Regions from separate parts of the Homo sapiens genome. Here all the other regions are reported to be linked to region 5. The links are microRNA targets in miRTarBase. Many come from high-throughput screens and were not tested one by one. Region 5 holds a microRNA gene; each other region holds the end of a gene's coding sequence.
The links. The annotated mature microRNA hsa-miR-192-5p reads CUGACCUAUGAAUUGACAGCC and lies in region 5 at 1,437-1,457, shown strand. An mRNA with a match to its seed (bases 2 to 7 or 8) in the 3' UTR can be bound and repressed. Matches are read on the target gene's strand: a 7mer-m8 pairs with bases 2 to 8, a 7mer-A1 pairs with bases 2 to 7 and ends in A, and an 8mer does both.

Region 1: the mRNA of PPP2R3B is a reported target of hsa-miR-192-5p. The part of its 3' UTR that is shown has no 7-base or 8-base seed match.
Region 2: miRTarBase lists FBXO25 as a target of hsa-miR-192-5p. The part of its 3' UTR that is shown has no 7-base or 8-base seed match.
Region 3: miRTarBase lists VASH2 as a target of hsa-miR-192-5p. The part of its 3' UTR that is shown has no 7-base or 8-base seed match.
Region 4: miRTarBase lists GRK3 as a target of hsa-miR-192-5p. Seed matches in the 3' UTR shown: 7mer-A1 at 3,534-3,540.
Region 6: the mRNA of ANKRD13A is a reported target of hsa-miR-192-5p. The part of its 3' UTR that is shown has no 7-base or 8-base seed match.
Region 7: miRTarBase lists DIMT1 as a target of hsa-miR-192-5p. Seed matches in the 3' UTR shown: 7mer-A1 at 341-347 and 7mer-A1 at 2,010-2,016.

What each region holds. Positions count from the first base shown.
Region 1 is chrY:331,101-335,167 of GRCh38, forward strand. PPP2R3B (protein phosphatase 2 regulatory subunit B''beta) reads right to left here. Exons shown (of 13, transcript NM_013239.5-2): 13 at 2,833-3,417. The coding sequence ends at 3,267. Among named protein-coding and RNA genes, the nearest start is that of LINC00685, 14 kb to the left of the region's middle.
Region 2 is chr8:468,481-472,534 of GRCh38, reverse strand. FBXO25 (F-box protein 25) reads right to left here. Exons shown (of 10, transcript NM_183420.2): 10 at 1-3,820. The coding sequence ends at 3,731. Among named protein-coding and RNA genes, the nearest start is that of FBXO25, 64 kb to the right of the region's middle.
Region 3 is chr1:212,987,767-212,991,829 of GRCh38, reverse strand. It overlaps VASH2 (vasohibin 2), which reads right to left. Exons shown (of 8, transcript NM_001301056.2): 8 at 245-3,318. The coding sequence ends at 3,246. Among named protein-coding and RNA genes, the nearest start is that of ANGEL2, 26 kb to the left of the region's middle.
Region 4 is chr22:25,721,686-25,725,752 of GRCh38, forward strand. It overlaps GRK3 (G protein-coupled receptor kinase 3), which reads left to right. Exons shown (of 21, transcript NM_005160.4): 21 at 604-4,067. The coding sequence ends at 765. Among named protein-coding and RNA genes, the nearest start is that of MYO18B, 18 kb to the right of the region's middle.
Region 5 is chr11:64,888,593-64,892,659 of GRCh38, reverse strand. MIR192 (microRNA 192) reads left to right here and starts at 1,414; the gene lies at 1,414-1,523. It overlaps MIR194-2HG (MIR194-2 host gene), which reads left to right. Exons shown (of 3, transcript NR_133640.1): 2 at 1-70; 3 at 3,320-4,067. It overlaps MIR194-2 (microRNA 194-2), which reads left to right and starts at 1,221; the gene lies at 1,221-1,305.
Region 6 is chr12:110,037,264-110,041,330 of GRCh38, reverse strand. ANKRD13A (ankyrin repeat domain 13A) reads right to left here. Exons shown (of 15, transcript NM_033121.2): 15 at 1,568-3,972. The coding sequence ends at 3,777. C12orf76 (chromosome 12 open reading frame 76) reads left to right here. Exons shown (of 2, transcript NM_001389625.1): 2 at 1-154. Among named protein-coding and RNA genes, the nearest start is that of C12orf76, 9.2 kb to the left of the region's middle.
Region 7 is chr5:62,385,264-62,389,325 of GRCh38, reverse strand. DIMT1 (DIM1 rRNA methyltransferase and ribosome maturation factor) reads left to right here. Exons shown (of 12, transcript NM_014473.4): 12 at 274-2,072. The coding sequence ends at 316. It overlaps KIF2A (kinesin family member 2A), which reads right to left. Exons shown (of 21, transcript NM_001098511.3): 21 at 1-3,842. The coding sequence ends at 3,757. Among named protein-coding and RNA genes, the nearest start is that of DIMT1, 17 kb to the left of the region's middle.

The DNA of each region.
Region 1 (4,067 bases), not on the chromosome of region 5:
GCCATGGTGAGGACACGGGGCCGGGGGAGGCTGCAGCCGACGGCCAGGCCCCCGTGCGGAAGACCCGGGGCAGCCCCCGCCTAGGAGCTGCGCAGACACGTCCTGGGGCCGCTGTTTCACCGAGACCCGAACGGCTGCTCCCCAGGCTCTGAGTGGCGTGTGCGGCAGCCAAGGCTGGGGGAGCTGTGACTTCTACACGGCGCCAGGGCGCAGGGATCCCTGCTGTGCCAGGGTCTGCCCGTGGGTCATGGGGAACGTGGTTCGAGGCCCCTCTGCTGTAGCCACGCAGCAGCGTCTTGCCGGGTGCGTGGCCTTGTCTGCAGGCTTGAGACCCAGCGGGGCCGTCTGTGCCACGTGGGGTCTGCGCCGGCCCAGGGGCCGCACCGCTGTCAGCCACAGGATGTGTGTCTCGGGGCTGCGGCAGACGGGGCTTCTGTGCCGTGTGGGGTCCGACCCCTCGGCCTGGGCAGGGCGGCCCGTGGGCACCGTGCTGGGGACGACCTCCGGCCTCTGCTCCTTCCCCGGCTCTGAGTCATAAAGGCCTCCCGCTCCCCCGGGAGCCGTGTCTTCTCTAGGAACTGCTGAGCGCGGCTGGGTCTGGCTCTGCCTCATTCCTGCATCTGATGCCCGCCCGTTCTCCCCCAACTCCCCTTTCTCCATCTCCTCCCTCCCCTCCGTCTTGCCCGTCTCCATTTCCTCCATCTCTCCCTTCTCCGTCTCCTCCGTCTCGTGGCTGTCCAGACCCCGTCCCTCCGCAGGCTGGGTCCCCCCTTGTTCTGGGCGGGGCTCTCGGTGCCGGTCTGGTGCCAGTGCTGGGAACCTGTGGTGCCCGTCACCTCTGCTCCCCGTCACCTCGGCTCCACCTCGAGGAGCTGTGTCCTGTCCCACGAGGAGGCGCCCCGGGACCTCAGGGCTGCAGGCCATGGCTGGGTCCGGCTTTGCCTCATCCCCTGTATCTGAGGCCCCCCAGTTCTCCCCCATCTCCCCCTCTCCATCTCCTCTGTCTCCCCCGTCTCATGGCTCTCCGGGCCCCGTCCCCCCCACCAGGCTGGGTCCCCTTATTCTGGGTAGCCCGTCTTGCCATCACTGTCCCTGCCGCCCCTCAGGACAGCGCTGTGGATGCCGGTCTGGTGCCGGCGGTCACCCCTGCTGCGCCTTGAGCAGCTGTGTCTTGTCCCGTGAGGAGGTGCCCCGGGACCTCAGGGCTGTGGCTGGCACCTTTCATGGTCCTCCCGGAACAGAGCTCATGCTGCTGCTCCTGGGTGGACCCGGGGCTGCCCCTGTGAACACTCTTGGTTCTGACACGAAGGCACCCCGTGAGGGAGGGGAGGGGTGGGCTGGGTCGGGTCCCTGCTCGGGGATCTCCAAGGGGTGACGGCCACGAAGTGCGGGGGACCCACGATTGTCATTCAGAGGGTGAGGCGCTGAGCCCTGGAACATCCTGGCTTCTGGCGGGACGCTGGCCACGGTCAGGGTGCCCCGAGTGCTTGTTTTGTGGGGTCCCTGGCCCCCTGCACACGTGAGCCCTCGGGGGAATGGACCCCCAGAACACGTGGAGGGCATGACTGCTGGGCTCTGGGTCTCCCCGCAGCGCCGCCGTCCACGAGGACCCCCGACAGGACCCCCCCACTTCTCCGGCAAAGGTGTCGGTGTGCACGCCCGGCCCCGGCACTGCCCGGGGCATCTGGGGTTGTGGCTGGGGAAGGACGGGGCACTTGGGGGAATGCATTGGGTACAGGGATGTCGGAGGATGCTCAGTGGCTGTGCAGGGGCCTCACCAGCGTCGTGGGTGGGGGACGCTGTCTTTCACGGCCCCAGGGAGGCCTCTCATGTCTCAGCCTTGAACCCTAATTGGGGGGGCTCCCAGTGTCAGTGTGGGGAGGCTGAGGGCGCTGGTCAGAGCCCTCCCATGACCATGGGCTCCGGCTCATAGGTGTGTGTGTGTTGGGGGGTGGTGTCCGGAGGTGGTGTGGGGCGGACATGGTCTCCCAGACGGGCTCCCCGGAGCTGAGGGCAGGGTGGGCCCTGCGGGCCGTGGCTCCCAGTGTCATTTCCCTGCGGCAGAACCTCCTGCCCTGCACCTGTCCTGTTGTTGGGGGTCCTGACCCTTCGCAGACCCAGGTGGGGGCATCCGGGAATTCAGGGGAGCACCTGGTGACACTGAGGACACCTTGGGGACAGCAGCATTCCCCCGGGAGGTGCTGCCTCGTCTACCCACCACCTGGAGCCCCCGCAGTCTCTCCTCAGGGGTCACGGGACCACCCTGTGCGTCCGCCTCCTTCACAGCGACGGCTGCCGGTGGATGAACGGGGTGCGTATGCTGCTCTCGGGGTGGTCCCGGCTTGGCCCTGCCCTGCCGCGTGGACGCTGCCACCTCCGTTTCCTGGGGGAGAGTTTTGTCGTGTGTGAGGACGGGGTTGTTCCCATGGTCACCACCTGTGACCCTCACCTGCGTGCAGAGGGAGCACAGCTGGGCCTGGGCTCATCCACGTCGGGTGCCCCTGGGGTGCTTGTGGCCTCCCCTGCACAGGGAGCTCCTCCTGGTGGGGCCTCCGACCCCCCTCATTTAGGTGTCCCCCAGCTGTGGACGTCCCCACTCTGGCGCGGGCTCCTTCCTTCTGGGGTCGTTTGTGGAACGGGGCCTGGGTCCGTGGCTCCGGGAGGGAACGGCCCCGAGGGTGGGGTCCCCCTGGCTGGGGAGGGGCCCCGCAGAGAGGCCCAGGCTGCACCCCGAGGCGTCTGGCGTGGCTGCGGTCCCCCTCCAGCACTGACGCTTGTAAATCCTGGACGGAGCCACGCTGTGGCTGAGGGAGCCGAGCCCGTGACTGAAAATCCTCCAAACGTACAAGCGTGATCGCCAGAAACGGTTTTGTACGTTTACACAAAACATTCACACAGCCTGTGGTGGAGGCTCCTGTCCAGGACTGAGGCGCCCGGGAGCCGCCGGTCACCGTTGTGCGCACACGGACCCTTTCCACAGACGCAGGCCCCGGAACCCAGGCTGGGTCGGGAACGGCAAGCGCCAGAGGGTGTCCGTGTGGGAACCCGTCCCATTCACGCGCGGCCCTACGTGTCCCCCTGGCACAGAGCTCTGGGCAGGTCCAGCCACGAACCCACAGCGGCAATCAACACGCTTCTGTGAATAAATAAAAGTTTATCATTCCGTACAAACGCACTCATTTTCCACAACAGTTTTTACACGAGCCGCGGTGGCCCGGTGGTGGCACGTGGGGAGCGGCCCCGCGGCGGCGTTCTCGCGGGCGGCGTCACAGCGGCTCCAGGTCCTCGTCCCCGCATGCGTACTCGTACAGGTCCACGGCGCCCAGCGGTGAGGGCGCCTCGAAGAAGGGCCTCTGGGCCAGCGGGGAGCGCAGCGCACTCAGCTTCTGCTCCACAGGGCTGAGCTCGGCCTCGAACCTGCAACGAGGGGATGGCGAAGACGTGGCCAGCAGCGCGGAGCAGGCCCTGGGCCGTTTTCCGGGAAACACAGGCTGCTCGGCCGCCAACCTCCAGCACGAGACAGTCCCCTGAGCCGACCTTGAGCTCCAGCCGCTGAGCCAGCAACGCGCTCCTGGCTGAGGACGCCGGCTCCACGAATGCTCCCGGGGGAGGGGCCTGCGGTGCAGGTGAAAACCCACCCAGGACGGGACGGAGCCCCGGGCGTGAGCTACACACAGAGGACCTGGGCGGGCGCGCCTCTTCCCCAAAGCGAGCTGCACGGGACCTGTGTTTACAACTGGGTCGTGGTGTCCACACAGGACTGGAGAACAAACAGGACCACAGTTTAGACACATTCTCCCAAAGCACAGAAGCTCCCAGTGGAGGCTACCACTTCCGTTCTGACCAGAACACGCAGCAGTGCGAGGACTGGACGCGCGCCTTCCCTTAAGGTCTCGGCAGTGACGTCGGGCGCTGCTCCGGGGAACCCAGCGCGGCCACGGACCACACAGACTCTCAGAGATCCTGTGGGGACACCTCTGCTTTCCAAGACGCCCCCGACAGCCTGGCACTGAGCTCCCCGCGGTCACCCCCACGGACCTGAGCTCCCACTGCCGGAGCAGGCGTGG
Region 2 (4,054 bases), not on the chromosome of region 5:
GGTGGTGGGTGGCAGGTGGGGTGGGGGTGGGGGTCTTGGAACCAATCCCCCGTGGATACAGAGGGCTGGCTGTTCCAGCACACCAAATCTAACAGCTATGTATAAAAGGTATCATAAACCATGACTTAGTGGGCTTTGACCCAAGAATGCAAGGTTGGTTCAAGATATAGAAATCAGTCAATGTAATAACAGCACATGATCTTATGAAGGCCAAAAACTACATTATCTTAAGAGATGCAGAAAAAGCATTTGACAAAATCCACACCCTTTCACGATAAAAACAAACTAGGAATAGAAGGGAACCTCCCCAACCTAATAGAGGGTATGTATGGAAAACCCAGGGTTAACATCATAGTTAATGGTGAGACTGAAAGCTTTCCCCTAAGATGAGGAACAAGACAAGGATGTTCACTCTCGCACTGCTATTCAACATTGTACTAGAGATTCTAGCCAGCGAAACGGGGTAAGAAAGAATAAAGGACATCTAGACTGAGAGGAAGAAGTGAAACTGTCTATTCATAGATGACATGATTTTGTACACAGCATCAGGAATCTACAAAGGTGTTAAAAGAGCTGATAAATCTTATATGACAGTTTGGTTCTAAAAGCAGCACTTAAGGCAAAAAACTGTTCACAGATGGTTAAATTTTTTCCATAAAGTAGACACAGTTTGCTGTGTACAGCCCTGTACAGTACGCACACACAGTGCATACAGAGAGCCTGTACGTCATGCAGTAAACCACGACAGCTACAAATCGGTCTGCTCCTGAGAGGCTACTGCATGGCTTTCCAATTTGTGTGTATTCATAAATTAGGTGAGGAATGTGACTTTTTGACTCAAAATAGGCAAAAGGAAGTTGTAACTGGGTGTCAAGAGACACCAGCCCTGAGTGAGCAGCGCAGACTGAGAACAGGTCCGAGAATGACTGGAGATTCTATCTTGAGAGTGTCTGGCATTGCCTTTCACAGGAGCGATGGGCAAGTGAAACTTACTACCTGGCTTTAGGCTCCTGGGGTCCTGAATTATCTACTTCATTGTAATGAAGGCATCAGAATGTAACTTAATCTCACAGGAGTGGCATCCCTACTTTTGGAAGGCCCCCTGATAGAAACTGTATTCAAAAATACCATTCCAAAGTGGAGATCTATGATTTCTCTTCTCATCTCTGTTTGGTGTTGTCCGATCTTCTGTAAATAACTGATCAGTGCCTCAAAATTGTCTTTATTCTGTCCTTATACCCTCCATTAACCTTTCAATCTCTCCCCAGCAATGTAAGCCATCCCTGCTTACCTGCCCAGCTCCCACAGCTTGTCCCTCGAACGCACCTGCAGGAGGCTGTGACCCATGCAGTGGCAATGCGGCTAGCTGTGTCCATGGCCTGTGGAAATATGCCAGCCCAGCAGAACAGCTGGAATCCTACACTATTAATATGGTTATGTTTTCCAAGCAAGTACTGCTCAATTTATACAAGTTAAATGCACATCTGTGATTTGATAGCACAGCTGAGAACTGTTATAACATCTAACAATTAAATGACAGTAACAGTATATGACAAATTAGGGGAAAGAACCACAACTTCAAAAGGATAGTTTCCTTTTAAGAAGAAACTAACATGAAAAAAGACTGACATCCACCCCAAAAAACAGGCAAATACCACATTAAGTAATTTACCAAAAACAAGAAAAGCAAATGGATAATAAATATATGGAAATATTCAAGCTCACAATTTATCATACATCAAATTCTTCACTTATTAAAACAGCACCAACAGAAAAAGAAATACCTGTGCTTCAGGGATAATGGAAACTCAATGTACTTACTCCCTTTCCTAGATTAGAACAATTTCTTTTCTCAGCTGGACGTGGTGGCTCATGCCTGTAATCCCAGCACTTTGGGAAGCTGAGGCAGGTGGATTGCTTGAGCTCAAACTCCTGAGACCAGCCTGGGCAACATGGTGAAACCCCATCTCTACTAAAAATACAAAAAAACAGCTGAGCATGGTGGTATATGCCTGTGGTCCTGACTGCTTGGGAGGCTGAGGTGGGAGGATCACTGGAGGGTGAGGTGGGAGGATCACTTGAGCCTGGGGGACAGAGGTTGCAGTAAGCCGACATCATACCCCTGCACTCCAGCCTGGGTGACAGAGCAAGACCCTGTCTCAAAAACAAACTCCAAAAAAATTTTTTTTCATGAACAATCTAGAAATATATTTAAAAGCCTTAAAATATGTTTGACTCATGATGTTGGCTGTACTACCAGTGGTTGTAAGGAGACGGCCACATTGTTGTGTGACGATGCTTATCATAGTTATTGATGCTAACGGCGAGACACTCAGGAACCCCAATATGTTGTGATGAAAAAGCCTGTTCCATCTGGGTGATTCTGTGGAGCTAATAAAAGCCAAGTTTCCAAATAACATTTAGGATATGGTTCTACGTTTCTAAAAAAAGGCAGGGTCGGGACGGGGGGCGTTGTGAAGTAACAGTGGTATACGGGACATTTATGGTCTTATGAAAAACTAACATATATTCGCAGAGGCCCCAGGTATTTGCATCGCCTCAGGAGAAACTATAATTTGACAAATAAATGCATTCTTGGCCATTTGTGTCAGTTCACAGAAGTGGGGCTGAAAAATCCAGAATCTTTTTTTAGTCCTATTTATAACGCCATAAAAGTATACTTTTATTATTATGCTTAAAGGAAAAAGTAGAAATGATTTGCTTGGGCTCCTTGACCCTATTCAAAAATGGAAATATACAACAATACGTTTCTATCCTATGCCTGCTGAGGGGATTTTTCATACTCTTTTCAGCATGCACAATAATCTTTGGGTGGTGGGACTGATTTTCTAATTTTCTAAAATGGACATGCGTTATTTTAAAAACGAAGCAATCTTTTAAGGATTTAAGTATCAAAATCACTAACATTTCTCAGTAGGATGCAAAACTGATGAAGTTTAAATCAATAGATAAACATGATTTATTACTTTGTCTATTAAAGTAGTTTCAACACAATTGAAGTTTAGACTGCACTGGGCTGTTCCCATCACAGTCCAGGATTATGCACAGACCAGCCCCCAACCCCAGCAGGGGTGCCCTGCCAGAACCTGTGCTGGATGCCTAGGAGCACAGAGACCACTGCCCGTTGTTGGGCTGCGTGTGCACACTTCATACCCCGATCCATAATCCCTAAGACAAGAATGGCTGTCATTGCCCTGGGTTCACTTTCTATTCAAAGAGGACTCATTTGGGCACAGCCAATGTAGTAGTTAAAATGCATTTTGAGAAAAAATAAATATTCTGTACAATGTATTTACAAGGATCAAATGTTTTGTAACCCACCCCCAATTAGTTTCCCAATTGGGAAACTATAATTTGATAATTAAGAAGCATATTATTGGCCGTTAGTGTCACGTCAACAAAGAATGTGGAGCTGACCACCTAAAGTATTTTTGAACTATATATATAGAGAGAGAGAGTACGCAAAATTTCACATTTTAATATGCTTAGAAGGAGTTTTTAAAGAAGTAGAAATGATTTCCTTGGCCTCTGACTTTCAGTGATGAAAATGCAACCATGCAGTCCCCCCTTTGCAGAAGGGCAGTTCTTCCCAGGCTTTCTGGAAGCAGGGGCTTCCGAGGAGTCTCCACCCACCTCACAGAACACTCACTATGAGCCCTGCACAGACAGCAGGATTCACAATCTCCAATAGGGATGGCAGGGGCAGCCCTTAAAACTTGAAGAGGTCGATGAAGTGCTGCGGAGACACAGGCGTGAAGCAGCTGTCAGGGTCGGCCGCCGTGCAGGGGTGTCCTGAGTCCTGTGGGGAGGTGGGAGATGGTTAGGAGGGGGCCCCACCACCAGCCACACTCTAGTGATGGTGCTTGAGGGGTCGTCAGCTGCTTGTTGATGTGGACCCTGGGCCCCACCTCAGAGGTACATGGGAGATAACTTGGATGAGAATGACCAACACAAGGGCAGCCGCAGCCGATTCTACATAGAGGTTTCCCATGGAACTCCTGCTCAGGTAGGGCAGGAGACGGTGGCCCCAGGT
Region 3 (4,063 bases), not on the chromosome of region 5:
CTCCCAAGTTCAAGCGATTCTTCTGCTTCAGCCTCCCAAATACCTGGGATTACAGGCGCCCGCCACCATGCCCGGCTAATTTTTTGTATTTTTAGTAGAGACAGGGTTTCACCATGTTGGTCAGGCTGGTCTCGAACTCCTGACCTCAGGTGATCCACCCGCCTTGGCCTCCCATAGTGCCGGGATTACAGGCTTGAGCCACTGAGCCCGGCCACATCTTACATATTTAGAAGAAAAACAATCCTTAAGTTTCCAGGATGGTTTTATTAAAGTCCCATGCTGTGTTAGAAACATACAAGTGATGAGAAAAACATTAACTTGAAACATGCACTTACTGGCATTCTCTAAAATACCATTATACAAGTTTTCATTTAATTAGAAAAATACCCACTAAAACAATCACAGTTCTTCTTAAAGATTTAAAAAAAATGTATTGGCCAGAACAAAGTCCAAGAGAATAAACAAAGTTCTGAATTGTATGTCAAAAAAACTGTACAAGGTTGTACATAAAACTATAGCTTACAAAAGACTCAGGTATAGTAAGAATTCTGAATTAAGATTTCCAAAGTTCTATTTACCAATATCTATTAATAAAATCCTTATGAAATAATTGACTTAGAAAAAGTGAAATGCTCATGATTTCAGAGTGTATAGAAAATACTAAATATCTCCGAAATAAAGTGTACTCAAAACAGCACAACATACAGTCTAAAATCAAGATTTCTGTCATTCATTTAAACTTTGCATATATTGCCATGATGGCTTAAACATAAAATTTCTCTTGCACTAACAACTTTTTAAAACCGATTTCAAATCACTTCATAGTTTTATTTTTTATATTTTGAATTCTAGCCAGTCTTAAAATCAGCTTTGGGAGGGGGGTGCATATAACATGTTTTTTGTTTTGTTTTGTTTTTTGTTTTTTAAATTATTGCACTAGAATTTAGGGGTTTGGTGCCTCTCCCGTATTTTTTTTAGAAATTAGCATATTCCATAGGCAATAAAAGTAGGATGACAACTAAGAACATTTTAAATGTACTTTCAAGTTTGTGTGACTAAACCTTGCTTTGGGAAAATTAGTCTAAAAATCAAGGAGCGGGTGTGGGAGAAATTAGCTTACTAATTGAACCATCAAGCCAGTTGGCAGTTCTAAGGCTTCTTTATCAGCATATTACAGAGTTTGTATTCCTGTTCTTTTCCTCCTTGTTGTGGGAAACAAGCTATGCAACCATTTGACATTCTGTATTTTAGATGTAACAGTACTTAATACTTGGCAAAAATAAATTCCAACTCTTAGAATGGTTGCAGTGTTATAAGAGGTCTACTTATTAGATGTAAGCAAGTTTCAGATTGACAAACAGAAGGTATATGGCTAAGTCAGTATTGTTTTAGAATGAAAATGAAATGATTCACTATTTCAAACATCTGAATACATGTGGCCAAGAGGCTGCGAATGGGTTTGCTGTGTGTAGATAAACAGAGCTAACTCATTTTAAACTCTGATAATACTGTTCTTAAAGAGATTAAACTGATAATTTTTAACCCTGTGCTACATTTTAATCTAATGGAGATGTATACTTGGTCTTGTTCATCTAAAGGACATTCGACTTCTTTAAGAAAACAGTACTTTTCATTAATAATACTGATTTTCAGGGTGAAGTAAGCTCTTGTGCACCCTTTTGCTTTGAAGTCCTTTTGCTTTCCCTGTCACCCCCAGAAATCTTGTAAAGAATTGGTAAAGAATCTCAATGAGCTTTTTTTTTTTTTAACTTCCTTCCTATAAACACCTTCAGTCAAAGAAAGCCAGAGGAGATGCACTGAGACTGAAATAACATCTGTTGACTACCAGACTTCACTGAAATCGGCCGTCTGCTCTCCTGAGTTGGCATTGTTGCTAAGATAAAGCAAATGAAATTGAAGCTGTACTCTTGATATTTACACCATACAAGACTAGGCTGTTAGGGTTGTCCTGTGTGGTCTGCAGCCAGAGGTTACACTGTAACTACCATATGCAGGCCAGACATTCATTCTGTGCTTAGGGACTGAATTACACTATAAGGTGTAACACTGGACCGAAGACTTTTCCATTAAAAAAAAAGTGCTGCTTTTCTAATTCTTTATATTTTCCAATACTCATTCCTAAAATGTCATGAAATGGTACCTAAAAGCAAAGTACTGGAAGATAATCACATCATGTCACATTTGGTCTTAATATAAGACATCAGAACACATCTTTAACAGTGAGTCCTCCCTTAGTTTGATTCTTGGCATCCTTCAGAAGAATCAAAGCCTGCCTCAGTTTAAAAATCAGATGAAATGTGAACAGAAAGGTTTTTTGGTTCTGAAGACCTGCTGATCACTCCTGGTCTCTGCCTGAGTGTGTTAATGTCAGAGGTAAATCCAGTACCGCTAAATTTGTATAATAGTACGTGACCTCTTGTGCTTTTTGTTAGAGTCTGCAAAGTTTAAATGTTAGTGACAGAACATAGACTAGCTTCTCAATGTGATATTTTTGTTTCATTTTGAAAAAACAAAAACATCAGTGAATGCTTTAAGAAAGATTAAGAAGGAAGTAACTCCAAGATCCTGAAAATGGTTCTTGTATTGCCAGAAGAATTTCAGTGCTTTTTAGTAAAACACTTGCATATAGTACCTTAAATCTCCTCACGTGTGTGCACCAGGAAAAAACTCCAAACTTGTGGAGATCCCCATGGGAAATACTGGGGAAAGAATACAAATAGAATATAAAAAAACAAAACGCCATTAAGTTTGCATATCTGATGTCAAAATGCTGAGGTAATAACTGCTTAAAAAAAACCCACCCATTTTTGCTTTCTGTTATTGCTGAAAAAGACAGTAATACTGTTAGAGTTACCTTACTATACCAAAAGTTCAAGAGATTATTTCATGAACATTTACTATTGGTGAGGCATAATGTTCAAAGCAAGTAAAAGAAAGTAGGTAAATGGAAAAATATAAAACTTCAGTTACGGTTATCCTTAAGATCTTGAGTGAGGGACATAGTCCAACCCCAGTGGGGCTTATTACTTCAGCCTTTTCATGGTGCCTTTTAGTGAATTTTTTAAAGCTAATGGTTACCACCCACTCAGATTCTATTTCCAGGTGAATCCTTAAAAATAAAATTCACAAGTTCTTAATAAATAGTTGCAGTTCCTCCTGAAGATGCTGGGTAAAGTGCAGAGAGAAGCACCACAGAAACCCTCTTGCTGGCCGGTATGGCTTGGCTAAATTCGGATTTGATAGCCCACTTCATTCAGAGTGCTCAGATCAGCCACCTTCTTTTCAGGCAGTGCAGGCCTAAGGGTAAAAGACAGAAATATGGTGGAGGAGAGGGGATGGGGCAAAGAAAGACAACAGCATTTTCAAGGTCCTCTACTCGGTTTTCCTAATCCTTCTGATATTTGTCTCATCCTCCCATTCCCCCACCCTGCCAGCCTTAGCTCACAACTCTACTTCTTGTTCTTAAGTCCACCTTTAAAGGTTTTAAGGAACATTTTAACAGACTTTCAATGTAGAGTTCAGAAAAGTTTTCAGGGTGTGGAATGAGCTTCTGCAGCTTTAAGCCTGACTTTGGTCACATTATAGCTTTTGAAACCCAGTACTCTTGAACCTTGCAAGGGTCTAAAAGTCACATACACTACAGTAGAGCCAAGAATCTGAGTCAAATTCTCCTTGAAACATTGGCTTCCTAGTGTTCGTGTCCTGGAGGAAGCCCAGGAATCAAAGGTGACTCACGTTCCCAGGGAGCGGTTAATGTTCAGGCTTGAATGTATAAAATCAAGGTGAATCTTAGGATTCATCTGAAAAAGCATGTCAGTGTGGAAAATCACTCAGTGGCAAAACATCTCTTCCCTAGAAACGTGCTAAAGTCACTTCCAACATAAAACTACAACTAAGCAATTATGCAAAGTCATGTGAGAAAGTACTTCAAGCTGGGAAATACAACATTCACATCAATAGCACATCATCTGTCTTCATTAAAGATGCGTCCTAAATGACTTCCAATATACGATTATGCCTAAACAATCTCACAATGTATCTT
Region 4 (4,067 bases), not on the chromosome of region 5:
TCGGCATGTTCGATGTTAAGGTTTATATATTTAGATAAATATAAGACGGCAAACTGAAATGCCATCTTCTCTAAACGAAAATGCCATCTTTTCCTCAAAGTTACATTGTAACACAAATTTCATTCCTGGACACTTTGTGACTGGTTCACTAGTGTGTGTGTTTTAAGAGAGCATATTTAGAGAAATAAACACGTATTAGATGCAAAAAAATCATTTTTACTAACATCAGTACTACATTACATACATGAATATATATTTAAAACATTTTTTAATTTGTCAAAACTCCTTCCCCTATATTATTATAGATTTCAGTTGTTTTAGAAATCAAAAGTAATCTCTAAACAAATTAAAGGCAGTGATTCTCAGAGTGGGATTGTACTGGAATCATCTGAAGGGTTTTAATGTGGCCTTTCCCTGCTCTTTTCAAGAGATTCTGGAGAAGGTGGCAGCGTGACCCATCAGCTAGTAATGCCACTGGGGGTGGACACGTAGGGTGTGCTTCCTTCAGGGGTTCCAGGGACGCTGGTAATCAATAGGGGCAGCCTCCGCTGTTGGCAAAATGGGTGAGCCTGTCACAACGGCTGCCTTTGTATTCCCCCTCAGAGTGATCCAGAGTTTGTGCAGTGGAAGAAAGAGTTGAACGAAACCTTCAAGGAGGCCCAGCGGCTATTGCGTCGTGCCCCGAAGTTCCTCAACAAACCTCGGTCAGGTACTGTGGAGCTCCCAAAGCCATCCCTCTGTCACAGAAACAGCAACGGCCTCTAGCACCCAGAAACAGGGAGGGTCCTCGAGGAGGACACACCAGGGTCTCAGCCTTTTGGGGTGAACGAGGATGAGGCATCTGATCTATTCGCTACCGGGACTCCTCCAGGCTCCCGAGAGGAGTCGGGACCCTTCGGCTTGGGGTCAGCTCAGCTCCCTGCCTTGTCACATTTGTCTGCATTAGAAACTACTGAAGAAATAAAAGTTCTTTTTCTTTGCTACACACTTTGGTACCTATGAACCTAGAACTTGAAGTGACTCCTACTTATCACGTAAATTTTTATGTCTGATATCAAACACATCTTAGACTCCCCAGAATGGAATTTAAAGATGTTCAGTGTTGGGTAACAGATTGCCCTAAGCATTGCCACATATTCTGTCTAGTCACTGCTGATTTTCTATGTCTTTGCTCCATACTGCTGGGGGATGGGAGAGCCACAGTGTGTTTCTTTTGTGCACTTCGCAACTGACTTCTTGTCCTGGGGTTAAAAGTTGAAGATATTTTCTGATGATATTAAAAGTTGAAGATATTTCTGCACTTGGGCCCTCCTCTGGGAGCCGCACCCACATGACTGCCCTGCCTCTGACCAGTCTGTTCCGGGGCCCCCTCAGCCAGGTGGGAATGACGGACACGTACTATCCAAGTGTATGGGATTAACTAATCATTGAAGGCATTCATCCGTCCATCATTGGAAAGATTTACAGTGATTCTGAAGGACAGGCCGTGGAGTTTTAGGTTTCAGGGGCAAGAGCAGTTTTCAAAAGTCTTTGAGTCCAGTGTGCACGAGTCGACAAGCAGTACCTGGCATGCAGGAGCACTCATGGGTGAGTCCGTCTCAGGTCTCGACAATTAGCAGTTGTGTGACAGTCATTCTGGTTCCTTCTGCCTGACCCTGGGAGACATATCAGTAATGGATGTACAAAAGCAGGTCTGTTTTATGTCTTAGTATAATTTCAGATGAATTGTATTGAAAAAATGCTGAGGAATGAATGTGTCAAAATGGGTTAACTGTGTATATTGACTTTCATGTCGTCATGCATCTGTCATGAATGAATGATACTTTGCACTGGGCTGTACGACAGTGAGGACCTTAGGGCATGAAGCCTTTTTCCTGGTCCCAGCAGCATCTGCCCTGTGAAGTTTGTTTTCTCCCACTGCCTCCAGGCCCCACTGATACCCCCAAATAGATGCTGGGTTATGAGAACCAGCGAAATCCCCCATGTCATCAGTCTTAAAAAAAAAATTTTACAAATCCACGTATTTGTCCCATTCTTGGAGTAGTTTTAGTGTATGTCTTTACATTAACTACTAACAGTATAAATAACTTGACATCGTAATTGTCTGCATCCTGTCCTTGATATTTTTAGCAGTTCCAAATCTTTGTTTTTGTATTTGTTTGCTGTGTTCATGGGCAAAGTAAGTACTTTTTAATGCAGTTATTTTGAGAGTTTGGAAGATAATTACCAAAAGGGTCCATTATTTCATAAGAGTTACTTTGCAAAAAAAAAAATGTGGGTTTTTTTTTTTGTCTATCTCAACTACTAGTTGGGGTTTAAATTAACATACATTTTCTACTATCTGTTATTTCCAGTGTGGGAGGAGGGATGTACTACTTACATGCATTCTCCTTATTTAAAAAGGAAGAATAGTATTCAAATTCTGTTGAAACACACACACACACACACACACACACACACACACACTCCAGAAGCAGAAAAGCCATTGTTCTTAAAGAGTGAATGTCTTCCCAGCCCTGGTTAATTATAGCTGTGACTGATGCCGTTCCCGTCTGCATCTCAAGCTCATAGGTTCTCAGCATGTGCAGTTGAGGATGCGCTGGGCCTCATGCCTGTTCTAGATCTCCAGGATAAAGGGCCTGCTGTTGACTCCACCAGGGTCTGGGCTTAGCGTCTAATATCTCGTACCTAGGGCGTGAGCTGCACAAACGTGTTCAGAAAGATTATTCAACTTTCCCATACTTGTTCTAAAATTGAGCTGATCCGCATCTCTTTCAAAAACTAGAATTTCTGCTCTAAGAATAGAACATAAGGCTCCACTCCCTTTTAGAAAAGATATATGAATTGGAAAATGCTCTGAAAGTCCTTTTGCTTCAAACAAAAGTGTAAACTTTTACACTTCCCCAACTCACATTTGATTTGTAATGATATGGTTGAGAAGTACATCTAGATGTCATTTATTAAAAGTGCTTTGTAAGACTAGATTGAGCTGTTTCTGAGGGCGGTCACCAGTTGTGTTGGGGTCTGGTTTGAGTGCCTTCTGCCAAAATGTTGTGATGGAGGTGTTTCTGCGACCAGACACAGGATACCGCTGTGTCTGCACCCGGTTGCCTGCATGGCCAGAGGAAAAGTCAGTTGGATTAAACATCATGGTATACTTGGCTGTTGTTTTTTTTTAATTTTTTAATTTTTTGGGATAGGGCCTCGCTCTGTCACCCAGGCTGGAGAACAGTGGGATGATCATGGCTCACTGCAGCCTTGAATTCCTAGGTTCAAGCAATCCTCCCACGTCAGCCTCCTGAGTAGCTAGGACTACAGGTGCATGCCACCTTTCCTGGCTAATTTATTTTTTGGGTAGAGATGGGGTCTTGAACTCTTAGGCTCAAGTGATCCTCCTTCCTTGGCCTCCCAAAATGCTGGAATTAGAGATGTAAGCCACCATGCCCAGCCATAGTACTTGGATGTTTTAGAAGGTTTTCCAAGTATTACATAATTCCTAGATGTTCACCCTTATTACACTCCAACTATTAAAAAGGTCAAAATTCAGCCTATTTTTTTTCATTATTTTAGATTCCTGTGGTTGGGATATTTTAACATTGATGAGAAAAATAATTGAGGTTGATATTTTTACAAAATCATGCGGTAATAAGTCTTGATTTCATGATTCAAAAGAATCAATAAAGCCTAAAAATAATAGATTACTTTAAGCTGCTATGTAAGATATATATGGAATAAATTAAAAACCTTTGTGAATTCAGGTTTATTATTTTTAACCTAAAACATTCTCTTTGGTTCATTCATCCCCTCATGTCATGGGGGCTCATTGGTTTTCCTTCTTTGTCATATTTAAGTATGATTTTTCAACAAAACTTCTAGAAGTCAGCTTATTATGTCACCATTCATGCAAAGTGCTCATGCCTCTGATTGGTCCATTCACTGACGTGACAATTTCAGGTCCTATGTTTAAAAAGAAGGGGCTGGCCGGGCACGATGGCTCACGCCTATAATCCCAGCACTTTGGGAGGCCGAGAGGGGCGGTTCACGAGGTCAGGAGATTGAGACCATCC
Region 5 (4,067 bases):
GCGGAGAGAGACCCAAGGGTCCCAGGGCGGATGCTTCCCACCAGGCCAGCCCAGCGTGCAGGGTGGCCTCGTAAGTCCTGATTGACATATGGACAGTGGTTCAGAGAGGTTACGCTACTTGCTCAAGGTCACCCAGCTCCCAGGCCCCTGCTGTCTTCCAGGCCACTGAGGTCCTAAGCGTCCTTCCAGGCGAGCCACTGCTCACAGCCTGTTCCTCATGTTCTGCGGCAGGTTTGTGTATCTACATCTTTTCCAGTTCCCTGTCGTCCCCCTTCCTACACCTCGTCATCCACTATCCCTGTTTGTTTTCTCTGTTCCTTTCTAGTTCTCTACCTGCTCCTCTTATTTTTATTTGAGACAGGGTCTTTCTTTGTCACTGAGGCTGGAGTGCAGTGGCACAATCCCAGCTCACTGGAGCCTCGACCTCCCAGGCTCAAGTGATCCCCCGCCTCAGCCTCTTGAGTAGCTGGGACCACAGGCATGCATCACCACACCAGGCTAATTTTTTATTTTTTGTAGAGATGGGGTCTCACTGTGTTGCCCAGGCTGGTCTTGCACTCCTGGGCTCAAGAGATCCTCCCACCTTGGTCTCCCAAAGTGCTGGGATGCCAGGTGTGCACCGCCATCCTCGGCCTTACTCTTCTCTTCCTCTCTCAGCCCCTCTGCCTCACTATCCCTCTTTCTGTGCCCTCCCCCACACAGCCCCCCACACTTCTTCTTAGTCTCATCTTCAGCTTCCCATACGAGGCCATCCTCATGAAATCAGGCACTGGGAGGTCCCTGGGGACTGACAAGTGCCAGCTGTCCCTTGCTGTCTCTCTGCCCCATGGCTGCAGCAGGGAGGGTGGGCAAAGGGCAGAGGTGACAGTGGCCAAACCTGAAACTGAGGCCCAGCTCTGGTTGGGAAAGAAACAAGGAAACAAAATAACTTGGGGACAGAGGGCGTGGGGTCATCAGAGCGGGCAAAGGCTGCCCAGGAGTTGTAAATCCGAGCCGCTCCCGGCTTTATGAGGCCGATTTGGGGTTGAGCCTGGACTTTGCCCAGGAAGGAGTGCTGGCAGCACACGGGGCGCCAGGTGTGGGCCCCGGATGATAAGAAGCCTCGGTGAAAAGACCATGGACCTGGGGCCACGAAGACTGGGGAGCCCAGGTGAGTGGGCATGGGACACTCTCCAGAGCCCTGCCGAAGGCGGACGCCAGGCAGGGCCCCGGTCTCCAATTGGTTCCCGCCCCCTGTAACAGCAACTCCATGTGGAAGTGCCCACTGGTTCCAGTGGGGCTGCTGTTATCTGGGGCGAGGGCCAGTACCCACGAAGAAGGAGAGGCAGGTGCTGGCCAGCAGACCAGCCAGGACTACCGTGGCGACGCTCCCAGGCCAGATGGTGGCGGGTAGTGGAGGGCTGTCGGTGGGCTGCCGAGACCGAGTGCACAGGGCTCTGACCTATGAATTGACAGCCAGTGCTCTCGTCTCCCCTCTGGCTGCCAATTCCATAGGTCACAGGTATGTTCGCCTCAATGCCAGCCACCAGGACCTGCAGGGATAGGGGAGGGCCGGGGGTGTCCAGCAGTCAGCAGAGATCCTGCGACCCCAGTGCAGCACTCATGGTCCCACCTCCCTCTGTCTCATTCCCCGTGAATGAGCCTGAACAGCTTCAGTCCTGCCCCTGCCCTGCCTGCCCTGTGGCACCTCTATGCTTTGCCCATGCTGTTCCCTTGGGCTGCAATACTCTTCCTAGCTTATTTGCCAGGCTCACTCTTACTAACCCTTTCAAGCTCTGTCCAAGCATTTGCTGCCTCCAGAAGGCCTTATTGAAGCTTCTAAGTCCCCACCTGGGCACCCCCACACAGTGCTGCCGCAGAGCACTGCCCTCTCGGAGCCCCGGTGCTGGTTTCTGCTTATGTCTCGCTCCTCTCCCCATCTGTGAGCTCAGTTCCCAGCCCAGGCGCGTGCCCAATAAATGTTTGCTGAACCAATCCTGAGCCTCTGTCTTGCACCCTGAGGAAGCACCCACCGACATGCAGTGTGGCCAAGGGGGGCTGAGTGCTCTAGGCCCAGTGTTTGTGCTGGAGCCCCCCCACCCAGGATGGGGCCCTGAGCCAGCCTCCCCATCTGCTTCCTACTCTCCCCTCCTTTGCCAGTCTCATCTCCCTGGAGCACAGCCCTGTGGTTGGTGGAGCAGCTTCTCCAGCCCCTAGGATTCCTAAGAGGGCCCAGGACCCCAGCTGCTGGTAGAGGAAGAGCAGCCAACCCAGGACAGGACAGCTGACCCCACCCCTGTCCCGCCTCCCACAACAGCCTCATTTCCACCTATTTCTTTGTGGTGTTTGTTTGTTTGTTTTGAGACAGAGTCTTGCTCTGTTGCCCAGGCTGGAATGCAACAGGCTTCCTCCCAGGAGGAAGCCTCCCCTCCTGGCATGATCTCAGCTCACTGCAACCTCTGCCTCCTGGGTTCAAGCGATTCTCCTGCCTCAGCCTCCCAAATAGCTGAGATTACAGGCATGCACCACCATGCCCAGCTAATTTTTGTGTTTTTAGTAGAGACTGGGTTTCACCATGTTGGCCAGGCTGGTCTCGAACTCCTGACCTCAGATAATCTGCCCACCTCGGCCTCCCAGAGTGCCGGGATTATAGGTGTGAGCCACCGCGCCCAGCCCCACCTGTTTCTTATACAACGGGGTTCTGAGGAAATTTTCCTTTTTTTTTTTTTTTTTTTTTGAGACAGGGTCTTGCTCGCTTTGTCACCCAGGCTGGAGCGCAGTGGTACAATCACAGCTTGCTGCAGCCTCCACCTGCCAGGGCTCACACAGTCCTCCCATCTCAGCCTCCCAAATAGCTGTGACTACAGGCACGTGCCACCATGCCTGGTTAATTTTTGTATTTTTCGTAGAGATGGGGTTTCACCATGTTGCCCAGGCTGGTCTCAAATTCCTGGCCTCAAGCAGTCCTGCCTCAGCCCCCCAAACTGCTGGGATTACAGGCATGAGCCACTGTGCCCTGTCAGAATTTTTCATTTGAATAAAAAGGTTTCTGGTACTACAAAATAAAATTTGTAAAATGGGAAATAGAGACCTAGGAATAAATGTCAAATTGCTTAATAACAGGCGTTGGCTATTGAGCCCTTTCTGTCTGCTGGGCACGCACATCCAGGACCTGGTCCTCCTGGCATCCATCATGAACCTGTTTGGGACAGGAGGACACAGGCTCAGAGAGGGTGCACATTTGCTGAAGTCACAGAGCAAGTTGGACCTTCTCCTGGGGACTGTAGGCAGCCAACAAACATCTGGCCCCTAAGACACTGTCTCTCTCCCCTTCCCACAGGCAGCTCTGCTCACACTGTCCTGGCTGCTCTGAATCCCTGGGCCCCGATTGGCCCCTGCCGTGGCCCAGCTCAGCAACCCCTCCCTGCAGACCATCCCATGACTCTGCAGGCGCTGCTCCCCTCTCTGCCCACACCCCGGCTTCGTGGGCCTCTCCCGCCACCCTTATCTCATTCCCTACAGAGTTAAGGAGCCCTGTGTGCTTATCTAATCCTGTGCTAGTTTCAGACTCCTTGAGGGCAAGGTCCATGACTTACTCATCCTCCCTGGCTGCTTCCCCCACCCACCAGCATAGTAGGTGTTCAGGATACATGGGCTGGATGGTAGGGCCCTGGACTCTAACCCTCTTGGGGCTGTCAGGCCTCAGACTCAGAGCACTGGCATAGGGTGAAAGGGGAGCAGACAGCAGCCACCCTGCCCTGGGGGTCCTCCTGCATCTGCCTCTGCAGAGCACTGCGATCCCACAAAGGCCTGCGAGGGCTATTGGAGACCTGTTCCAATGCATGAGCAAGGCGGATCCAGCACCCTCCCCCAGCTCCTTGAGCCCACTGACCTGTGTCCTTTACCCAGCAGGCCCTGGGCCCATGCACATTTCCCTGGCCTGGGTCTCACCTCCAACCCCTCTCAGAACTCCTCAAGACCTGCCCAAGGGTCACTCCCTCGCGGACACCTGCCTGGCCCCCCGCCCCGCCCCCCATTACCCCACTCACTGGCTCCCTGGATGCTCTGTGGCTGGGATGTTAGCGCCC
Region 6 (4,067 bases), not on the chromosome of region 5:
TGATTTTAACAACCTGCATTTAATGTGAAGTAACCGAAGTAGGATACTGTAACTGTGTAAGGATTTTGTTTGTAATCTTGTAACATTGAACCATTGAAATGTTCAGTTCTTTGCTTTTGAGCAAAACGTCAATTAAAACTAAAGTAAAATCCTATATATTGTTTTACTCCACCAGTTATTTCCCAAGTGTTTGAAATGCAGGTGTGTGTCTGAATTTGATCTAATCACTTAAAGAAGCTCTGTGAAGTGAAATTTCTTTTTTTGAGACGGAGTTTGGTTCCTGTTGCCCAGGCTAGAGTGCAATGGTGCATTGTTGGCTCACTGCAACCTCCACCTCCCGGGTTCAAGCGATTCTCCTGCCTCAGCCTCCAGAGTAGCCAGGATTACAGGCATGAGCCACCATGCCTGGCTAATTTTTTTGTATTTTTAGTAGAGATGGGGTTTCACCATGTTGGCCAGGCTGGTCTCAAACTCCTGACCTCAGGTGATCCACCTGCCTTGGCCTCCCAAAGTGCTGGGATTACAGGCGTGAGCCACTGCGCCTGGCCTAAAGTTGAGATAAAAGTCTCCTAGTGCTGCCTATGATTTAGTGACTGTGGAGTCATATCAGCATGTTGTATTTTTTTCCACCTGGACCTCAGGCTTAAACCTACACATATTTCTAAACAGAGGCCTAGGTGGTACTTTGAACTTCATCACTCACTGTACCACTGAATCACTTGAAATCTCCACATCCAGTTCATCTTCCTTGATGTCATTTGTGGTCAGCAGGAGACTGCGACCAAGCTGGCAGTTATGGCAGTTTCCCTTTCCTGTCATTATTTAGAGCAGACTTTCAATCCCTTGACATGCCACGTTTATGTAGTGTGACAAGCTTGTTTATAGAGCAGAGTGCCTTAGGAACTTAGTTCCTAGCAGTGTCTAACGTGCAGAAGTTGCTCAATTAAAGTTTCTGGCCGAGTGCGGTGGCTCATGCCTGTAGTCTCAGCACTTTGGGAGGCCGAGGCGGGTGGATCACCTGAGGTCAGGAGTTCGAGACCAGCCTGGCCAACATGGTGAAACCCCGTCTCTACTAAAAATACAAAAATAAGCCAGGCATGGTGGCACACGCCTGTAATCCCAGCTACTCGGGAGGCTGAGGCAGGAGAATCGTTTGAACCCGGGAGGCAGAGGTTGCAGTGAGCCAAGATCGCGCCATTGCACTCCAGCCTGGGCAACAAGAGCAAAACTCCGTCTCAGGAAAACAAACAAACAAAAAAAAAAAACCACTTCCTGCTGATATTGGGCCACTCAAGCTTAGCTTTTCAGTTTTTAAATAATCCATAGTCATTGCACCTCTTGACCTGAAAGAGTAATGGTTTTCTTCATAGTGTCCTTGTGGCTTCAAAGTATTGATATCTACTTTCCCCTAAAAGCAAAGCAGCTCCTTTACATCTTCCCAGAAATACAGCCTCATTTCTGGAACCCATACATTTCTACTGGCCACTGCCTTTGTTGTTTTTAATACCCGCTTATTTAGATATAGGAAGAGTTTGGAAGCCTTATCATCTGGACTTCTAGGAACAGCCTCACAAAGCAGTTGGCTTCAAGGGATAGCATTGATGCAGAGCTTTGATGTTGGCTGGGCTTCCCTTACCCCACAAGAGCCAGTTCCCCTCCAGGAGGACCACAGAGGTGTCAGAACAGCCCAACACTGGCTTGCTTTTAGTTGCCATTTGAAACAAGCAGCATGGGGCTTGTTAACCTGGGCAGGAAGGCTGGGAGGAGCATGCCACCTTTGCAGTGATGAACTGAGCGAAGTGAGGCATTCTAATGTTCTACTGACATACGTAACAGGAAGTGTGGGTACATCCAGTGACTAGAAAAAACTGAAAAGGAAAAAGACTCAAAGACTGGAATTTTGTATGAGCACCCTCTAAGGAAGCAGTCTTTATTTGCATTTTTAGAGTGAACACATATATGAAAAACACTGCAACAGGTTGACACAATGCTCAGTCCCTTTTTAAGTGAATTCCTGGGGAGAAAGTCAAGGACCTTAGGGAGCAGAGCAGTGGAATGCAAACACAGAAATTACCTATGAGTCACTTTTGTGAGCCAATGACACGGCCTCACTGCAGCCATTCCAAGAAGTATCTTTGCTCACGGTAAATGCAAAGTAAACAAAATACCACACTGCATATTTGAAACAAACAAATGTGACGTTGCCTATACTGGCCTCATGTGCAGAAGGAATTTTGGTCAGACAATGACAAAAAAAAAAAACAAAACAGATTGTGAAATGGAATTAAAAGCACAATTCTTTGTATCTGGGAACGTTTCACTGGCAACACTAACTGTATGATACAGACGTTACCTGGAACAGTAGTTATGTTTCTCTTCCTATCCCCAAAGAAGCACAATAGAAGAAATAGACGCAAAATGGAGGAGGGTGTTGTTTACCAGGTTATTTCAGTGCAGCCTGTGGGAATGAATACACGGGCCACAGTGAGCAGTGCCCTTGGCTGTATTCCCCAGGGTTCTGTATGTTGTGCGATGGTTATATACAAGAGGGTTTGACAAAAGAGAGTTAACTACTAAAGGTATCCAAAAAAGGCCTGAGAAAATCTGGTTAAAATGTATAACCTTGTATTGCTACTGATGGGAGTTGTTTTTATATCTTTTACAAATAATAAAAAGATTGTTAAAAAATAGATTTATCCAGAAAGATGTTGATTTGAACTCTAAAAAGCAACGTGGAATCATTATTTTCCCTTTTGAATGAAGAGCCATGGAGCTCCGTGGTTTTCAGCTCCCTTTCTGGTTGCAAATCAATCCTTCCTCTGGAGTGAGTCTAGGGCATGCGGGCTCTTCCTAGGTGTCTACGTGGAAATCCTTCACTCATGCAGGTGTAGAACACACCTGGTTTGGTTCTGTGTGTTCCAATATTTTGGCCAGCTTGCCCACTTCAAGAACAAGCCTCAGGTTCCCCTAGCTGCTCCTTCAGGGACAGGATTAGCTGCCTTTGATTTAGCCTGGAGAATCCTGCTCTCAAAAGAATTGCCTTTACAAATTCAAATCAGATCCTTCGATGCGTGCAGTGAGGTGATGTGAAACTATTAGTAATGTTTAAGGCTAAGGCAACATCCATGGCCATTTGTGTATCTTAATTTGATGCAAATAGTTAACAATAATCTAAAATAGATTCTATATGTATCTCCTCTAACTTTAGCTGGGTGTGGAAGGAATGGAATCAGATAGATGGAGGAAGAATAATGACAATGTCCTAGAAACCCTGTAAAAAGGTAAAAATAAGGAGATCAGCACAGATTACCCATTTCTTTGGTGAACAGTAAAGAAGTGTCTCCAATTCTCATAGATCACACTTTACAAAGGCGGCTGCTGCTCTTATATATAAAAGCACCCTGACTCTGCAATAACTTGTCTTGTTATCACTCCTTGATAAAAATTTATCTACAAACCTGCGGGGATTGGGGTTTTGTCTAAAGCTGGTAGTAAAAATGTGACCTGCAAGCCAATACAGCTAATGGAAAGTGATGATGCTCTCCTCCCCTTAGCCTGGAGATGGGGCCTGCAATCCCTGGTCCCTTCTCCACCCCAGGGAGCAGCCTGGATGGGCCCAGGAGTCCCTGGTTCTGCACCTCTGCATAAAGAAGGGGCAGTTGTTGCCTGCTGCATGCACGCAAGGTGCAGGCCCTTAGCCCTAGGGCCCTGGTTGACACAGCATCTGTGACAGCCCACAGCCTCTGCTTTGTGCAGAGGCTCACAGGCTGAAAGGTCTATTTGTCAGTGAGTGACAGCTGTAAGACTTGCTGGAGCTCAGCCTCTTCCTCCTGGAGCCGGAGCTCCCATTCCTCCAGCTCTTTGGCAGAGAGCTCCATGGCTAGCTGCAAGTCATTATCAAAACGGCTTGTCTCGCTCAGGGCGCTGGGGCACAGGCCTTCTGTGCTGGTGAGGAGGCTCTCCTGGATGGCCCTGGGTTGGAAAACAGATAAAAAGGGAGAGTCACTACTATCATCATCATGGTGGCAGCAGTAACTACATTTCTTAACCGCTTACCAAGGGCACAC
Region 7 (4,062 bases), not on the chromosome of region 5:
TTAGTAGAGACGGGGTTTCACCATGTTGGCCAGACTGTTCTCGAACTACTGACCTCAGGTAATCCACCCGCCTCAGCCTCCCAAAGTGCTGGGATTACAGGCATAAGCCACTGCGCCCAGCCAGTAACGTTTCTTTAATAACTAGTATTAGGAGTGGGTGGGCTCTGTAAGCATGCTGTATTCATGTTTTAGTATTAATGGTATAGAACTATATACCGTTATGTGCTACAAATTAGCTTTTCAGTACCATTCCATTTTGATTTCTTTTTTCAGATTGCTACATGGATTCAACGCAGAAGGTATTCATTTTTCCTAGGTATTTGGAAAACAGAAATTTTCAAGGTCAAGAAAAGAAATGAATTTTGTATTTTTTGTATTTGAGAAGATAATGCTTTTGCTTTACTGAGACATTATTTACTTGACTATTTTTGGTTCAATACTACTACTGTTGTCACCATTTATGATTCTGAATTTTAAAGTTGGAAAGTTCTAAGTATCAAAGTTTTTAATATATAATGCTGGTCCAATCTATTCATAATAATCTTCAAGTTCAGGAGCCGCAGAGACGCACAACTTTACACTTATCATTTCTAACAGTTTATTGTATAAAGATGTTACTCTTCTATTTACTGTTATATACTGTAAGGCCTTCTTTAGGCCTTTAGCTCTGTTCCTCCAGTAATAAAAAAGTTAAAATATGCTTCACTAGTCACACATTCCCCATACCATTTCGTGTTATTCACATTCCCCGTACCATTTCTTGTTATTCACATGTACAGTAAAACAATTGTTTCTTAAATTATTTTTATTTTGGTTCTCTCATTCTCTTCCCTATTTATCCTATACAGTGTCTGTTACGATTGCCTACCTCTTTCGCTATCCTATAGCGTCAGAGACTTAGGGTTCTGGGTAAGCCCAAGTCTGCTACTGCCACCGTGCAGTGCCAGGCATATTAAAGGGCATGACTCCCAACATGTAAAATGAGGAAGCTAAACTGGAATGAAATTAACAATAAAATTATCTTTTTTTATGGTTCTTAGGGAGATAACTATAGGCTTAGCAAAATTTCAGAGGGTTTTGTAATTGAAACTGGTTTCAACTTCAGAAAAACAGCCATTTCCCATAACTACAGGTTCCCAGTATTCCTATGATTTCTGGACAATTAAAATTTCCAGTTCCTTTTTCATATACCTGGTGCTTAGTTTTAAGCTATTTTAAAACTGTCAGACTGAGAATTTCAATAGATGTCATAAACTAGTTTTATTAGCTACTATGTTTAAGTCAATATAATACTAAGTGCTGTTAATATACTATAATAGAGTTATAGTAGCTATTTTGTTTCTATAAAAAATTAATAAAAATATCTTTATTGATATTTGGCTTTTTTTAATACCTAACTTAATAGAAGAGTGTTTCCAATTAATTTAACAAAGCCAGATTTTGAAATCTGGCTTCAAAGTCATAGTAAATGTTACTACATAATTAAAATAATGCTTGTTCTTAATGTATAATCCAGAACAAAGGCATCAAGCTGCTTTTGTTAAACAAATATGAAATAATATACATTAAGAGTAGATTTTTTTGTTTAATTTCACAAAACTATTTTGCAGAGTTCACTTGTATCATCTCTATCCTTATAGTAAAAATTTTAAGATTTAACTCGGCTTTCTCAGGTTATTTCCCTCTACCCCTATGAACTGCTGAGTTTTAGTTCCTTTTCTGGCCTTCAGTTTTCACTATCTGTAAAGCTGAAGGACTGTATTATATTACCTCCAGTATCTTTTCTGGTACTAATTTTTAAAATACCTGATCAGAATGAAGCCATCATAGTGTAAGGCAGCATATTTGTCTATAAGGAGACTTTCCAAAGACAGTACCCATCCAATGCAAATAATAAATTTGAAGCTAATCATCTGTTGTGCTTTAAAATGAGCAAATTCACATGTCTTTATTGCCCTTTGAAAGTTGGTTAATCTCAAAAACTACCTTTTTTTTAAATATCCTTTGCAAGGTCAATTGTAACAGTTCTCCATCCTTCCTCTTCCCTTTGAAATAAACACAAATAGAATATATCTTACAGCTGCAAGAAAACCTGAGTCCTTTCCAAAACAAAGGTGACTGAAGTAAATTATCTCTAAAACTTATTCCATAGACTTCATTTATTAATAAGCATATTGTGAAAATCTACATTTGTTTTAGATTTCATGTTTACAGAGCTTTTCACAATTGTATTAGGATCTTTCACAACTACTCTCTGGGTTTTATGAACAGTAAAGAATCTGGCTCATGTGACCCTCTATTCATAGCTCCCCTTTGGCTCCTGTGAAGGAGCTGATAGTTCCCTGGAGTAAATAAATCAAAACAAGATATCCTTGGGAGATTTTTAGCTGTTAATCTACTCCTGGACCCCATCCTGGGAACTGAGGGAAAACTCCTAGAGAGATATACAAATCTTTGAACAAAATATTTACATGAAAAGTGGCCAGTTTTCTTCCTTGGAGTAGCAATCTGTAAAAATAAGTGCTGCTGTTTAAAAAGTAGCATGCCCTACACCATACCAATGTATTAGTGAGAATTTGGCGATTCTCACCAAACAACAATGAAGTTTCACATTTGGTACTGGATGGAGCTTGGGTTAGATCTGCCTTTTAAGGCAAAGTCAACTCTTTCAACTTAATTCTTTTTCAAGGGAGTAATGTACTGTCTACACTTGGCTTAAACTAACTTCTATTATGGACTACTTTCAATGTACATGTAAATGTTCATGCATCAGAAGCCAATTTCTTTTAACAGTACATAGAAAAGGTATATTTTGGGGTGCTAATGAACACTTCAAATTAAGTAATGATATTGGTAAGGATCAAACTGCACTATTAGTCTTGTTAATACCACACTGGCACACACACTGCATATATATGTATTTTCCTAAGATAAAACTCTTCTCAGAATTTCATTACTTTTTATTATACACCAACTAGTTTATATTGTAGTTCTTTACAAAGAAAATGCTAAGAAAAATTATAATCACATGTTATATGGTTTTAAAATAATAATTCCAGATTTCTTTACATATAAGATGGAATGGTCCAGCAGCTATATCCACTGTCACAGACTTTAGTTCCGTTCAATGATATGGCACATCCTGCAAAATTAACTAGTCACACACAAAAAATGTCTCAAATACAGTAAAAATGTACACACAAAGGTAATTTACAATGACAAGGAATGTAATTTTTCTTGGCTGTGCTTCAGAAATTTAGGGTCAGTAGCCTTAATCAAGGCACAAAGCAGGAAAAGGTGAGCACAGCTGTCTCTAGGAGTGGGCAAGGTATGTACAATCACTGATGAGGTATGCATGCACGCAAAGGATTTAAAACTGCTCAGTCTCACTACAAAAATTGAACTGAGTTAAAAGGAAATGCTGTGGCTTCCCCCTACTATCTGGCTCTGGATTGAGTCCACAGTCTTACTTCATCAAATAGAAAATAAAACTGACAAGGATCTCCAAAAGTAAATCACTATTTGTGTAAATGAAACAAAATGCTTCATTAATCCCAGTTCTTGGTTGTGCCTCCTGGACTAGAAGCATTTTGTAGACAAAAGAGTGTTTCACAAAATTGAAATGTAATTCAGGTGAAGGACAAAACATTTTCCACAGACACTTAAAATTCCAAACTTTCAAATGGCCCTTACAGCTGAACCGTTGTATGTTACAGTAGTGAGGGTTCTGGGTATCCTTTAGCAGCAAATGCCGGTTTAAAGGGCACGGGGTCTCTTCGGGTTGATTTGCTTGCTGGCTTGTTCCTCCTCTTGTAGAGCTGCACGGAAAGATTTCACTTTATCTTGGAAAAAGAAAAGAAAGAGGGAATAAGTATTGTATTACACGCAGTAAGAGTTTACAACTTTATGGGTTCAATCAAGTCAGCTGTGTTATTTCCTAACAGTAACTCAGTATTTTTCCTTTTGTTCTTTGTTGTCTAGAAACTCGGAACTAAATAGAATGCTCAACTATTGCGAAAGTTTTTTGTTACAGATTTCCAGAAATACCTGTTTTTCTGTATC